Linked DNA regions of Homo sapiens. The protein of the gene in region 2 interacts with the protein of the main gene of each other region in a biochemical or structural test. Each region holds a gene or a part of one and is shown on either strand. Other genes may lie near its edges.

The links. Proteins that work in one complex are often made in the same cells at the same time.
Region 1: the proteins of NBR1 (region 2) and ACAD10 interact in a test that uses a peptide from one of them, tested with the Homo sapiens proteins (one study listed by BioGRID).

Annotation. Positions count from the first base shown.
Region 1 is NC_000012.12:111,744,341-111,752,052, forward strand, and holds part of ACAD10 (acyl-CoA dehydrogenase family member 10), read left to right. Parts: intron 1-302; coding exon 303-703; intron 704-1,803; coding exon 1,804-1,944; intron 1,945-2,708; coding exon 2,709-2,846; intron 2,847-2,954; coding exon 2,955-3,045; intron 3,046-3,976; coding exon 3,977-4,135; intron 4,136-4,832; coding exon 4,833-5,005; intron 5,006-7,712.
Region 2 is NC_000017.11:43,194,509-43,202,932, forward strand, and holds part of NBR1 (next to BRCA1 gene 1 protein), read left to right. Parts: intron 1-455; coding exon 456-531; intron 532-1,972; coding exon 1,973-2,083; intron 2,084-2,433; coding exon 2,434-2,598; intron 2,599-5,658; coding exon 5,659-6,100; intron 6,101-7,177; coding exon 7,178-7,272; intron 7,273-8,146; coding exon 8,147-8,204; intron 8,205-8,424. UniProt on the Homo sapiens protein: Ubiquitin-binding autophagy adapter that participates in different processes including host defense or intracellular homeostasis.

The DNA of each region.
Region 1 (7,712 bases), on a different chromosome or scaffold from region 2:
GAGATCAAGAGCAGGGAGCAGGCAGACCTAAGTTGGACTCTGGCCCCCAGCCCCCTAACTTCCAGCTCGTCCAAGTCACCTCCTTCTCTAAGACTCAGTTTTCTTGCGTGCAAAGTGCAGGTGAAAGCAGTTGTATTGCTTTGGGGATTCAGTGAGCTATAGTGGCTCTTAGCACAGTGTTTGGTACTTAGCAAGTGCTCAGCAAATGGCAATAGCTGCTGAAGTGACAGTGTCATCACATGTTAACATCCCTATGATGGGTCGTGTGGGAGTAATCACTGTTTTTCTTTGATTCTGCTTAGGGCAAGCAAGCTCCACATATGCGGAACAAACTGGAAAGCTGACCGAATTTGTGTCTAACCTGGCGTGGGATTTCGCAGTCAAAGAAGGGTTCCGGGTTTTCAAAGAGATGCCCTTCACAAATCCGTTAACAAGGTCCTACCACACGTGGGCCAGGCCCCAGTCCCAGTGGTGCCCCACAGGCAGCAGGAGTTATAGCTCCGTTCCAGAAGCTTCCCCAGCTCATACCTCAAGGGGAGGTCTGGTTATCTCTCCAGAGAGCCTCTCTCCACCTGTCAGAGAGCTGTATCACCGGCTGAAGCACTTCATGGAGCAACGTGTGTACCCTGCAGAGCCAGAGCTGCAGAGTCACCAGGCCTCAGCAGCCAGGTGGAGCCCCTCCCCACTGATCGAAGACCTCAAGGTAAAGCAGCCATGGTGAGGTGGTAAGACCCCAATACCATGGCATACCCTCCCCGACCCCACCGGGCTCACCTGAACCATCCCAGGCAGTGAAGATACAGGAGCTCCGAGTTGAATGATCTTTGCTTCCATCGTCTCAGAAAGAGCCAGCTCTTCATGACTCAGTTTCCATCTCTTGCTCTTGCTGTGCCTGTGTCACAGGCAGATGGCTCAGGTGTGACTGCACAGCCCAGGCAGTGGAATGCTTGGCCTTAGAAAGCCAGGGCAGGTTAGGCCTATCTGATGGGTATTTGAATTATGTAAATTTGAAACAGTGCTGTATCAGCTAATAAATCTCTCTCTAGAGAACCCGTAATATCACAGCTAGAGGGCCAGATCCACTGTGAGCTGAGTTTCTGTGTTGTCTCCCAGTGCTGTCACTTCAGCTGATAAACAGAAACACCCGCTGTTCCTTATCACGTGAACCTTGGATTGTGTTAGTTTTGAAATTACTTGAGATCTTCAGGAGCATAATGCAATCATCATCTACTTTTCTTTTTTTCTCTTTTTTTTTGAGACGGAGTCTTGCTCTGTGCAACTTCCGCCTCCCAGGTTCAAGCGATTCTCCTGCCTCAGCCTCCCGAGTAACTGGGATTATAGGCACGTGCCACCATGCCCAGCTAATTTTTGTATTTTTAATGGAGATGGAGTTTCACCATGTTGTTCAGGCTGGTCTTGAACTCCTGACTTTGTGATCCGCCCGCCTCGGCCTCCCAAAGTGCTGGGATTACAGGCGTGAGCCACCATCTCTCTCTTTTTTTTTTTTTTTTTTTTTTTTGAGACAGGGTCTCGCTTTGTCACCCAGGGTGGAATGCAGTGGTGTGGTCATAGCTCACTGCAGTCTCAACCTCCTGGGCTCATGTGATCCTCCCACTTCAGCCTCCTGTGTAGCTGGGACCACAGGCACAGCCACCATGCCCAGCTCCTCATATCATTTTTTTGGGCACACGTGCATGTTTGGTTGTCTGCCTTGTTTCCTCCAATCCCTTTCATTGTTTTCCACGGTTCAAAATAAAATGAAATCTTCCACTGTGGTTTCCTGACTTATTTTCCCCATGATAGGAGAAAGCCAAAGCTGAAGGACTTTGGAACCTTTTCCTACCCTTAGAGGCTGATCCCGAGAAAAAATACGGAGCAGGACTGACCAATGTGGAATATGCACATCTGTGTGAGCTCATGGGCACGTCCCTGTATGCCCCCGAGGTACCTTCTTTAAAGTTTTCCTCAGTGTGTGGGAACATCCTGATCTTCATAAGAACTCAATCCTAAACAGATAAACCAGATTCAGAAGCACTGGCATGAACTTGAACTTTTTTTTTTTTTTGAGATGGAGTCTCGCTCTGTCACCCAGGCTGGAGTGTAGTGGCGAAATCTTGGCGCACTGCAACCCCTGCCTCCTGGGTTCAAGTGGTTCTCCTGCCTCAGCTTCCCAAGTAGCTGGGACTACAGGCATGTGCCACCACACCTGGCTAATTTTTGTATTTTTAGTAGATACAGGGTTTTACCATGTTGGCCAGACTGGTCTCAAACTCCTGACCTCAGGTGATCCACCTACCCTGGCCCCACAAAGTGCTGGGATTACAGGCGTGAGCCACCATGCCCATCCAATTTGAAGCTTGAAATATTAATGTGAGAAGGCCAGGCATGGTGGCTCACACCTGTAATCCCGGTACTTTTGGAGGCCGAAGTGTGGGGGATCACTTGAGGCCAGGAGTTCGACACCAGCGTGTGCAACATAGAACTCTGTATGTACAAAAAAATAAAAAATTAATCGGGTGTGATGGTGCATACCTGTAGTCTCAGCTGCTTGGGAAGCTGAGGCATGGGAGGATGGCTTGAGCTGAGGAAGTCGAGGCTGCAGTGAGCCATGATCGTGCCACGATACTCCAGCCTGGGTGACAGAGCTTGACTCTGTTTTTTTTAGAAGAGGACATGACAGTCATGGTCACGCTCCTTTTCCTTCTCAGGTATGTAACTGCTCTGCGCCTGACACGGGCAACATGGAGCTGCTGGTGAGGTATGGCACCGAAGCGCAGAAGGCTCGCTGGCTGATTCCTCTGCTGGAGGGGAAAGCCCGCTCCTGTTTTGCTATGACCGAGCCCCAGGTACGTCGCCTGGGCTGCCACCCACTTGCCTGGCCCTGTTGTTGTCGGCCCCACAGGGAACACGGGCTGTCTGCTGGCGTCTCTGACTGGAATATGCTCCCCACTCAGGTTGCCTCTTCAGATGCCACCAACATTGAGGCTTCCATCAGAGAGGAGGACAGCTTCTATGTCATAAACGGTCACAAATGGTGGATCACAGGTATTTGGCCTAAAATGCACTTTCCAAATGCACATCAGGGAGTCTGTGCTGTTAGGCGCGTCTCTCAATGCCTGGGAGGAGCCTCTGCTTTTTCAAGTTGACACAAAGGAGATTCTGTCACTTAGCGCCCCCAGCAGAGGCAGCTGGGAGAATAGGAGGGTAATCCGTGGAGCACACTGTTCTCAGAGGTGGCACTTCACAGGGCAGGGACGTCCCCCGGTGCCCACACATGGACGGATGCCTCCCTGCACATGTGACCCCAGGAATCTCTCCACTTCCTGCTGTTCATTCTGCTTTGGGCAGCTCCCCTTCCTTGGTGGCTTCCTGGCTCCTCGATCAGGTGTGTTACATCCTAAGGGCTAATGACAATCCTGACTTTTAGGGATTGTCCAGTGTTACTTTTGCAGGGCCCCTACAAGTAGCCGTGGAGCTTACCTCCCGGAGCCCATACCTCCCTGGACATTAAGAATGAGCATCCCCATTTTGCAAAGGAGGAAACCGCACTCAGACTTAGGTCCCTTGCCTGGGGTATGAGCCCCCAGCCAGCAAGTAGAGAACCCAGAGTCAAAGGTTCACCTGATTCCAAGGCCCGGGCCCAGAGCCGTTATGTGTGCACCACCTGTGGGAGCCGAGCCAGCTGGCAGGGATCAAGTAGCGGTTTTCATCCTCTTGTCTCTAAATTATATTTTCTACTCTATGTGATGCTTTTAAAAACTTGCTCTTATGATGTTGGATTCATTCCTCACTGGGACAAAACCCAATTTGCTCTTATTTCTGGTCAGCAGTCTGCAGATGCTCATCTGATTACATGGAGCCTTAAAGAGCTCTGTCTGCTTCCTTACTGTGCCTTTCTTGGGCCAGGACCACGTGTGTAGAGATTTGATGGCCCTGGTGTCAGATGATGGGGTCTGTCTCTCTCCTTTCCTGGCAGGCATCCTGGATCCTCGTTGCCAACTCTGTGTGTTTATGGGAAAAACAGACCCACATGCACCAAGACACCGGCAGCAGTCTGTGCTCTTGGTTCCCATGGATACCCCAGGGATAAAAATCATCCGGCCTCTGACGGTGTATGGACTGGAAGATGCACCAGGTGAGACCTCCAGGGGCGGGTCACCCCTGGGTGTGGGTCTGGTCCCCAGGAAACACCACTGAGGGGCCCCTGCTCTTGTTCAGGACTTGCCACATCCCACGTCTGAGGGTATGATGACATTTGGAGTCACATGCTCCTGCATTTCATTTCCATACATGAATATCAACCATGCAGGCGGATTTCAGACAGGCATTTATGGATTTTTTTCCCTCTTCTAAACTTAGAAAGTAATCAGGAGTCTGTGACACAGGAAGCCATACAGGGCAGACGCAGGAAGTGGACCCCAAACCTACTCTTCCAGGCCCCAGTGTGAACAGCTGACCTCTAGGCCACAGCCCTGGTTTGGTCCGCTCCCAGTTTGGTTCTCTGCTAATAGTGTTCACATTTTTACTTTCAGTGTTTTCATAGGATCACTACATTGTCACAAACCACTAGGAGCTTCAGCTTAAGGTGGCATTATTATGTTTTTATAAAAGGAATCACAGAATAGTCATTTGCCATTATAAATCAGTGATTCATTTTCTGTGTTTAACAGGCTGTTTCCTGCCGTCCTTTTCCCTTTAACCATGTCCCAGTAAGAAGGCTAAATAAAGGGCAGGGACATTGCCAGCAGATAACCCAGACTGAGGTGAGGAATAAACACATCCAAGGAAAATGACTATGGCTATTGCTCACAGTGATCGTTTGGGTCTTTCAGGTGGCCATGGTGAAGTCCGATTTGAGCACGTGCGTGTGCCCAAAGAGAACATGGTCCTGGGCCCTGGCCGAGGCTTTGAGATCGCCCAGGGCAGACTGGGCCCCGGCAGGATCCATCACTGCATGAGGCTGATCGGGTTCTCAGAGAGGGCCCTGGCACTCATGAAGGCCCGCGTGAGTGCTTTCCCCCGCACCCAGCACTGACTCAGAACCACCACCTTCTGCTTTGCTGTCGGACTTCAATTCCTACCTGTTTTCTGAGTGCAGTCCTAGCAGGTGAAGCAAGGTGATGTCCTTGCCAAGAAGTTGCATTCCTGTCTGCTTTGCATCTGCTACTTTGCTGCAGTTTGGATTCAGAGCAGAATGGACCCCACTCTGTCGAGGTGACCTGAAGGGAAACGCCAGGCTCTGTAGCAGCAGAGGCAAGGTTCCAAGGTGTAAAGGTCATGCTGCTAGCACATTATTAAAAATCAGTCTGGGTGCAATGGCTCACAGCTATAATCCCAGTACTTTGGGAGGTCTAGGTAGGAGGGTTGCTTGAAGCCAAGCATTTGAGACCAGCCTAGGCGAAAAAGAGAGACTCAGTCTCTACAAAAAAAAAAAAAATTTTTTTTTTTTTTTTGAGATGGAGTCTTGCTCTGTCACCAGGCTGGAGTTCAGTGGTGTGATCTCGGCTCACTGCAACCTCCACCTCCCGGGTTCAAGCAATTCTCCTGCCTTAGCCTCCCAAGTAGTTGGGACTACAGGCACGTGCCACCACGCCCAGCTAATTTTTGTATTTTTAGTAGAGACAGGGTTTCACCATGTTGGCCAGGAAGGTCTCGATCCCTTGACCTCGTGATCTGCCCGCCTCGGGCTCCCAAAATGCTGGGATTACAGGTGTGAGCCACCGTGCCCGGCAAAAAAAAGAAAAAGTTTTTTTTGTTTTTTTTTTTTTTGAGACGGAATCTCACTCTGTTGCCTAGGCTGGAGTGCAGTGGCGCGATCTTGGCTCACTGCAACCTCTGCCTACTGGGTTCACACCATTCTCTTGCCTCAGCCTCCCGAGTAGCTGGGACTACAGGCACCCGCCACCATGCCTGGCTAATTTTTTGTATTTTTAGTAGAGATGGGGTTTCACCATGTTAGCCAGGATGGTTTCGATCTCACCGTGTTAGCCAGGATGGTCTCGATCTCCTGACCTCATGATCCGCCCACCTCAGCCTCCCAATGTGCTGGGATTACCGGCGTGAGCCACCGTGCCTGGCCAAAAAGAAAAAGTTTTAAGTGCCAGGCATGGTAGCATGTGTCTCTAGTCCCAGCTACTCAGGAGGCTGAGGCAGAAGGATCGCTTGAGCCCAGGAGTTTAGGGCTGCAGTGAGCAGTGATCACACCACTGCACTCCAGCCTGGGTGACAGAGTGAGACCCTGTCTCTTTAAAAATAAATAAATAAATAAAAATCAGACACCAGGGAGATCCCATGTTGCTTGTTTTTGTCCCTAGGCTTCCATCATCTGGCCTGTACCACCCTCCTCCACAGCACATCCAGAAAACTTTATTCGGCCATAATCCTACCACCCCCAAAGTTTGGAAACCTAGGTTAAAAGACAGCTGCTTCCAGGACAGGAATTCAAATTGGTGATTATCAATTTCAGAAAGGTGACGCAAACCCTGAGACCAAAACCAGTGTCTCACAAGAACTGCTATTGAAAGAACAGAGGCAGTCTGAATTTTTTATTACCGAGCAAACCTGTGATTTACACCCTTTTGAGTTAAGACTGACCAGTTATTTTTTCTTTCTAAGTAAAACGCTCCTGTCTATGGACTCAGGTATGGTGCTTCAGCCCCACATGGAATTAAATTCAGCCTTCTGGCAGAATAATTGGACTGAATGAGTCAGACAGAAGTCTCCAGAAAGTGCATAGCATGAACATGGCACCTCCACTGAAGACTTGGTTGGAGTAATTAGGAATCTACAAAAGATTTGCTACAAGGAGGTTCACCACAGTGCTTATTGAAATAGCAAAATTCTGAACAACCTATAAGGCTAACAATGACTGTTGGCCAAATAAAACACAAGATGGCATACAGTGAGACTTTAAATGATGCTGTGGAAATCTATTCCTTAACATGGAGAAATTGCTCACTATATACACTTAAATTTAAAAAAAAAGACTGTGGCCAGGTGTGGTGACACTCCCAGCACTCTGAGAGGCCGAGGCAGGCAGATTGCTTGAGCCCAGGAATTTGAAACTAGCCTGGGCAATACGGCAAAACCTCATCTCTATAAAAAATAAGGCTGGGCGCGGTGGCTAACGCCTGTAATCTCAGCACTTTGGGAGGCTGAGGTGGGCGGATCACTTCAGGTTAGGAGTTTAAGACCAGCCTCGCCAACATGGTGATACCCCGTCTCTACTAAAAATACAGAAGTTAGCTGGGCATGGTGGCACATGCCTGTAATCCCAGCTACTTGGGAGGCTGAGGCAGGAGGATCACTTGAATCCAGGAGGCGGAGGTTGCACTGAGCTGAGATTGCACCACTGCACTCTAGCCGGAGTGACAAAGCAAGACTCCATCTCAAAAAAAAAAATTAAAATTAAAAAATTAAAAATAGTAGCCAGGTGGGGCTGGGTGTGGTGGCTCATACCTGTAATTCCAGCACTTTGGGAGGCCGAGGTGGGCAGATCACCTGAGGTCGGGAGTTCGAGTCCAGCCTGACCAACATAGAGAAACCCTGTCTCTACTAAAAATATAAAATTAGTTGGACGTGGTGGCGCATGCCTGTAATCCCAGCTACTTGGGAGGCTGAGGCAGGAGAATCGCCTGAACCCGGGAGGTGGAGGTTGCGGTGAGCCGAGATCGCACCATTGCACTCCAGCCTGGGCAACAAGAGCGATACTC
Region 2 (8,424 bases):
TCAGCACTTTGAAGGGCAAGGGACAGAGGGAGAGAGCACAGGAGAGAAGGTGGTAGAGCCATAGGCAGTAATCAGGAAATCAGAGATATGCCCACTTTGATCTAGTCAGGTATATTTAATGGGAAGGAGATCACCCATGGAAGCAAGTTTGTAAACTAGATGTTTCCTCTTTGAATTGGGAACTCAATCCTGTACTTCCCCACAAACTCCCTTTAGTTGCCTCTTCACCTTGGCCTAGCTAATTCTCCTTCATACCTGCTGCATTTTCTCTTTCCTGCTATTGGGTTATTTCAACATCTAATTCCCATTTAACTCTTCTTGTTTTCACTTGTCTGGGGACAGGCATGAATTTGAACAGAGTTGAATACGAAATGATGTGGAAATGGTCTACAGGTCCCATCAAGACATGGCTCCAGCATGCACTCCAAACAGCCTAACATTGTCTTTTTTTATAGGACCTGCTGTCCTTTGAGCTGTTGGATATAAACATTGTTCAAGAGTTGGAGAGAGTGCCCCACAACACCCCTGTGGGTAAGAATGTCACTCATTTCATCTTGTTCGTCTTACTAATAGGCACAAAAGTACCACAGCCTAGACACTGGTAGTGTTTTATTCTGAGGAAATGGCAAGGATTTCTCCCACAGTAGGATAGTAAAGCAGCAATCATGGATCCGTTTTTCTTCTTTCCTGTCCTTTGTCAAAAGTAACAACATGCTGGGCATGGTGGCTCGTGTCTATAATCCCAGCTCTTTGGGAGGCCAAGGCAGGAGGATCACTTGAGGCCAGGGTTTGAGACCAGCCTGGGCAACATGGTGAAACCCCCATCTCTACAAAAATTACTTTTAAAAATTAGCTGGGTGTGGCCAGGCACGGTGGCTCACGCCTGTAATCCCAGCACTTTGGGAGGCTGAGACGGGCAGATCACCTGAGGTCGGGAGTTTGAGACCAGCCTGACCAACATGGAGAAACCCCTTCTCTACTAAAAATACAAAATTAGCTGGGCATGGTGGCACATGCCTGTAATCCGAACTACTCGGGAGGCTGAGGCGGGAGAATTGCTTGAACCCAGAAGGCGGAGGTTGTGGTGAGCTGAGATTGCACCATTGCACTCCAGCCAGGACAACAAGAGCAAAACTCCGTCTCAAAAAAAAAAAAAAAAAAAATTAGCTTGGCATGGTGGCCTGCACCTGTGGTCCCAGCTACCAGGGAGACTGAAGTGGGAGAATCTCCTGATCCCAGGAGGCAGAGGCTGCAGTGAGCCAGGATTGTGCCATTGCTCTCCAGCCTGGATGACAGAGTGAAACCCAATCTCAAAAAACAAACAAAAAAAAGAGGCTGGGCACGGTAGCTCACGCCTGTAATCCCAGCACTTTGGGAGGCCAAGGCTGGTGGATCACAAGGTCAGAAGTTCAAGACCAGCCTGGCCAAGATGGTGAAACCCCATCTCTACTAAAAATACAAAAATTAGCCAGGCATGGTGGCAGGTGCCTGTAATCCCAGCTACTCGGGAGGCTGAGGCAGAGAGTTGCTTGAACCTGGGAGGCGGAGGTTGCAGTGAGCCGAGATTGTGCCACTGCATTCTAGCCTGGGTGACAGAGCAAGACTGCATCTCAAAAAAAAAAAAAAAAGCAATAAAACAAGTTCGTGCAAGGCTTTTCCACTATAAAGGAATCCTCTTCTCTTTTTTCCCTCTAGATACTTGTGTCCTTTTGTTCCTTTATGTTCATGGTTTTGTGTCTTGGCCACAGCTTTCCAGGCTAAATAACTGTGATTCTTCCTGCATTGATTGATCTGAGATATTTTGCTTACTTATTGGTCTGGAGAAATTTTTTGTAACAGACCTCAAAGCATATCTTGGTTTATTTTAGCCCTGCGGGAGGCAAGAAGCCTACAAACTGCTACTTCTGGACACTGACTGTTGATGATATGATGCTTTCTCTTGATTGATGGTTCTCCTGTCTTCATTCTCCAGATGTGACTCCCTGCATGTCTCCTCTGCCACATGACAGTCCTTTAATAGAGAAGCCAGGCTTGGGGCAGATAGAGGAAGAGAATGAAGGGGCAGGATTTAAAGCACTTCCTGGTAAGGGATTAAACATTTGTAAAGTATTTGCATCCTCCCTTTCCATATCATACCCTATTTTACAGCTATCCCCTACTGACCCTACCTTAGCATGTAAATGGGCTTGCTTTCTGTAGCATCTCATGTTTTGAAGTCTCCTCACCTTCACATGGCACAGATAGCAGCTATTCCTTGGTTTAGTTTTAGCATGGGTAATGACTGGTGAATGTTCTTCAGCACTTTAAACACCAAGTGCAGACAAAGTTTAGATAGCAGCTATTCCTTGGTTTAGTTTTAGCATGGGTAATGACTGGTGAATGTTCCTCAGCACTTTAAACACCCAGTGCAGATAAGGTTCGTGTGTCTTTCAGATTCTATGGTGTCAGTAAAGAGGAAGGCTGAGAACATTGCTTCTGTGGAGGAAGCAGAAGAAGACCTGAGTGGGACCCAGTTTGTGTGTGAGACAGTAATCCGATCCCTTACCTTGGATGCTGCCCCAGACCACAACCCTCCTTGCAGACAGAAGTCCTTGCAGAGTGAGTGTCCTTGCATTTCCCCTACCTAGCAGGGTGGCACCTGAATTGTGACTGCCAGACTTGACTAGTTAGATGTGCTCTTCTTCACTGAGACTGAAGGGAGAGTGATCTTAGTTAGAAGTTCTGATCTTGGCGGGGCGTGGTGGCTCAAGCCTGTAATCCCAGCACTTTGGGAGGCCAAGGCAGGCGGATCACAAGGTCAGGAGATCAAGTCCATCCTGGCTAACATGGTGAAATCCCATCTCTACTAAAAATACAAAAAATTAGCCTGGCGACGTGGCGGGTGCCTGTAGTCCCAGCTACTCGGGAGGCTGAGGCAGGAGAATGGCATGAACCCGGGAGGCGGAGCTTGCAGTGAGCCAAGATTGCGCCACTGCACTCTAGCCTGGGCGACAAAGCGAGACTCCATCTCAAAAAAAAAAAAAGAAATTCTGATCTTGTTTGTGTCTTTAGACTCTACGTATGCTACCTGACTGTTCTAATTAGAGCATCAGGAGTAAAGAAGCCATCATACTCATTTCTCCATCTTCTCAGGGGCAGAATTACAGCTGCATTCCACAGTGGAATAGCAGCCAGTTGTGCTGCCTGGATTCTGCAGTAAGGAATCTTCCTGTAATTTGACAGAGCTCCTTAGCAGAGACCCCTATGGGTAGCTGAGTTGTCTGCTTTCTCCAAGGGCAGCAGTCCCAGAAACAGTGGATAGAAGCAGGAGTACCAACAAAGTTTCTCAAGGTTAAATTCTGCTGTAATAAATACCTTTATAGGCCGGGCACAGTGGCTCACCCTTGTAATCCTAGCACTTTATGAGGCTGAGGCGGGTGGATCACCTGAGGTTGGGAGTTCGAGACCAGCCTGACCGACATGGAGAAACCCCATCTCTACTAAAAATACTAAAAATTAGCCAGGTGTGGTGGCTACATGCCAAGGATTACATGCCTGTAATCCCAGGTACTTGGGAGGCTGAGGCAGGAGAATCACTTTAACCCGGGAGGCGAAGGCTGTGGTTAGCCGAGATGGCGCCATTGCACTCCAGCCTGGCAACAAGAGTGAAACTCCGTCTCAAAAAAAAAAAAAGGAATAAATACCTTTATAACAGAAACTTCTAGGTATCAGATAGATAGAACCAATAGCATATATTTTAAGAAGTATCCAAAAATTCAAATATACTATGTCAAAATAATATTGGAGAATCTCTTTATTATAATCAAATTTGACCTATATCTTTAAATATTATTTATCTTACTTTTGTTTAAAGTATACATGTAAGGCCAGGCGCAGTGGCTCACGCCTGTAATCCCAGCACTTTGTGAGGCCGAGGCGGACAGATCACAAGCTCAGGAGTTTGAGACCAGCCTGACCAACATGGAGAAACCCCATTTCTACTAAAAATACAAAAATTAGCTGGGCGTGGTAGCGTGTGCCTGTGATCCAGCTACTCAAGACGCTGAGGCAGGAGAACTGCTTGAACCCGGGAAGCCAAGGTTGCAGTGAGCTGAGATCGCACCACTGCACTCCAGCCTGGGTGACAGAGCGAGACTCCGTCTAAAAAAAAAAAATAATAAAGTGTACATGTGGCCAGGTGCGGTGGCTCATACCTGTAATCCCAGCACGTTGGGAGGCCGAGGTGGGCGGATCATGAGGTCAGGAGATGAAGACTATCCTGGCTAACACGGTGAAACCCCATCTCTACTAAAAATACAAAAAATAAGCTGGGTGTGGTGGCGGGCGCACCTGTAATCCCAGCTACTCGGGAGGCTGAGGCAGGAGAATGGCGTGAACCTGGGAGGTGCAGCTTGCAGTGAGCTGAGATCATGCTACTGCACTTCAGCCTGGGCAACAGAGTGAGACTCCATCTCAAATCAATCAGTCATGTATATCTTTATATTTTTTTCCACATGTGTGTACAAATACATAACAAAAAGGTCTGGAAAGACAGTACCAAAATGTTCACAGCTGTTATTCTGATAGGATTTATGGGTAATTTTTTTTTTTTTTTTGAGATAAGGTCTCACTCGCCCAGGCTAAAGTGCGAGTAGCAAGTTTATGGCTCATTGCAGCCACAACATCCTGGGGTCCCCCTACCTCTGTTTCCCAAGCAACTGGGACCACAGCCACATGCTACCACAATGAGCTAAATTTTTTTTTTTTTGTAGAGATGGGATTTCGCCACGTTGCCCAGGCTGGTCCCAAACTTCTGAGCTCAAGCAGTCTGCCTGCCTTGGCCTCCCAACGTGCTGGGATTTTAGGCGTAAGCCACCACACCTGGCCTGGGTAGCTTTTTTTTTTTTTGGGACACAGTCTCTGTCACCCAGGCTGGAGTGCAGCAGCGCGGTCTCGGCTGACTGCAACCTCCGCCTTCCCAGGTTCACACCATTCTCCTGCCTCAGCCTCCCGAGTAGCTGGCACTACAGGCGCCCGCCACCATGCCCGGGTAATTTTTTTGTATTTTTAGTAGAGATGGGGTTTCACCGTGTTAGCCAGGATGGCCTTGATATCCTGACCTCATGATCTGCCCACGTTGGCCTCCCAAAGTGCTGGGATTACAAGCGTGAGCCACCGTGCCTGGCCCTGGGTAGCTTTTTTCTATCCTTTTTTACCCTCTCAAACATGATTGGCCAGTTTTCTCCCATGACTGCATCATCTTTGTAAAGAAGAGGAGGAGATAGACATATAATCCTGCAATACTCATCTCCTAACTTTTTCTCTTTTTATAGCACTGTTAGTGTATCAGTTTTGGTTTAAACTCTACTCAGTATATTAACCATCACATAAAAAGGAAAAAAGGGATGGAGCTGCCTCCTTTTATGATTCATAGAGCTTCTTGGAAACCTGAGTGTTTCTGCCTACCTTGTTTCTGTGAGCTTTGATTCTATTTTGTTTTGCATAGTCTTCAAACTTAGAATATGGTCATAGTTCCAGAACCAGCCCTTCCCTTTAGTTCTTCCCTCTCCTCTGGCTTTCATAATTCTAGCTTATGATCCACAAGGCTTTACCAAGTAAGGATAGTACTTAGGCCTGCTTTTAGCTTCCACCTTAAAATTGGTTGCTTTCATCCTTTAGTGACATTTGCCTTGCCTGAAGGACCACTTGGAAATGAGAAGGAGGAGATTATCCATATCGCTGAGGAAGAAGCTGTCATGGAGGAGGAGGAGGATGAGGAGGATGAGGAGGAGGAGGATGAGCTCAAAGATGAAGTTCAAAGTCAGTCCTCTGCTTCCTCAGAGGATTACATCATCATCCTGCCTGAGTGCTTTGATACCAGCCGCCCCCTGGGGGATTCTATGTACAGCTCTGCGCTCTCACAGCCAGGCCTGGAGCGAGGTGCTGAAGGCAAGCCTGGGGTTGAGGCTGGGCAGGAACCAGCTGAGGCTGGGGAAAGACTCCCTGGAGGGGAGAACCAGCCACAGGAGCACAGCATAAGTGACATCCTCACGACCTCACAGACTCTGGAAACAGTGCCCCTAATCCCAGAGGTAGTGGAGCTTCCACCGTCACTGCCCAGGTACCACTCACAGCCCCCTCAGCTGGGGTGTTCTTCAGAGGTGAAATAAAGAGAGGAATCGACCTGATCTCAAAACCTGTTTTTTCCTCAGTATGGAAAGAGACTATTTTCCATAGCAAAGTCTGAATTTAGATGAATAAAAGTTGTATTTCCCAGTATTTGTGGATTCTGGATTTAAAGAAATATTTGTTTTAGTTGGCCTTAAATTATCTGAGTATAGTCTGTCTGCTTATATTTTGATTATTGAGAGCTGGTTGTGTTTTTTTTTTTTTTTTTTTGAGACAGGGTCTCAGTCTGTTGCCCAGGCTGGAGTGCAGTGGCACAATCTTGGCTCACTGCCACCTCTGCCTCTGAGGCTCAAGCAATCTTCCCACCTCAGCCCCCTGAGTAGCTGGGACTATAGGCATGGGCCACCACACCTAGCTAATTTTTGTATTTATTGTAGAAGCGGGGTTTTGCCACGTTGTCCAGGCTGGTCTTGAACTCCTGGCCTTAAGCGATCCAACTGCCTGGGTCTCCCAAAATGCTGGAATTACAGGTGTGAGCCACTATGCCTGGCTGAGAGCCAGTTTTTAAACACAAACATCCCTGGACCTTCCCTCCTTGTTTTATTGACTCTTCAGTAAAGGCAGCAAAAACTCAACCCAAACAGTCATAATTAGGAAGTTAAATCCATTATGGGAAAAAACACTATAAAACCAAACTAATTATTTTTAATTCTCTGGTGAATCTATCTGAATCATTCTTGTCTCCTAATAGTAGGGAAAATGCTGGAGCCTTGACTATAATGTAAACCATTCTCCCCAAAAGCTAGACATTTCCGTTTATTGACACCACTTGATATAGGTGGGGACATGACCAGACTGAAGCCAACATTTCTAGCTTGCCTGTGGCTAAAGAGGAAAATGGGGTAGAATGTAGCCCTTATGATGGAACCCTAAATCCAGACATGTGATCTGGATCAGAAATGTGAAGCCTCTGTAGAGAATTTGGCACTGCTGTGCTGTGTTTACTATTTCTCCACTGTTGCCATAAGTGCCTTTTCAATTTACTTTCCATATTGTGTCTTTCTGAAAGGAGCTCTCCTTGTGTACATCATCATGGTTCCCCAGGAGTGGATTTACCAGTTACCATACCAGAAGTTTCTTCAGTCCCTGATCAGATCAGAGGAGGTAATGATCAGCCTAAGCTTTTTCTCTTTTTCTCTGCTCCTGTCTAATGGAAACCAGGTATAAATAGCCTCTCTCTCTTCGTGATTCTTGGTGGTTTTTTGAAACTTGCCCTTCACAGGCCAGGCGTGGTGGCTCACACCTGTAATCCCAACACTTTGGGAGGCCAAGGCAGGCGGATCATAGGGTCAGGAGTTCGAGACCAGCCTGGCCAACATAGTGAAACCCTGTCTCTACTAAAAAATAGCAAAAATTAACCAGGCATGGTGGCGGGCACCTGTAATCCCAGCTACTTGGGAGGCTGAGGCAGGAGAATCACATGAACCTGGGAGGCGGAGGTTGGAGTGAGCCGAGATCGCACCATTGCTCTCCAGCCCGGGCAACAGTGCGAGACTCCGTCTGAAAAAAAAAAAAAAAAAACTTGCCCTTCACTCTCTCCATGCTCCTCCTGCATACTCTAATTTCTATTCTCTGGCTGAATATATTGTTAGACCTCATAGAGGTAGTGGAAAGAACACAGGCTTTGGAGCCAAACAATCTAGGTTCCAGCTCCATCTCCCCCTTTCCTGACTAGCAGTTCAGCAGGTTTCTAATGGCTGTGAGTCTGTTTTCTTACTACAAAATATATCAGTGTGTTAGGATTATAGAGTTGATTTTTCTGATTCAATAAACAATCATCTTGCATTGCATTTCTGGACAGTTTCTCCTTATCACTTAAACTACCCTTAAAACTTCCCAAATACTTTAAAAAAAAAAAAAAAAGACTTCAAACACTGTGATCAGATTGCCACCTGCCTCAATAATAGCCTTGCTGTGAGTTAGGAAACAGTAGGTGCTTATGGATGCTGCATCTAACCAACAGCTCTTTTGCTTTTAGAGCCCAGAGGCTCATCAGGACTTGTAAACAGCAGACAGAAGAGCTATGACCACTCAAGGTAACAACCTTGTGCAGTCTCTTTTTTCAGAAGCAGGTGGATATTCTTGTATTCCTTCTGCTTAAAAGAGCCTCTCACAGTATGTACCCATCTTCAGAGAGCAGAGAAGGGGAGCCTTTGTTCCGTCTTATTCTTGTTTCTTCTAAAGGCTTTGAGCAACACTGAACAAACGGCTAAAGCTGATGTTTAAGAGTGTTCTGTTTGGGAGGCCGAGGCGGGT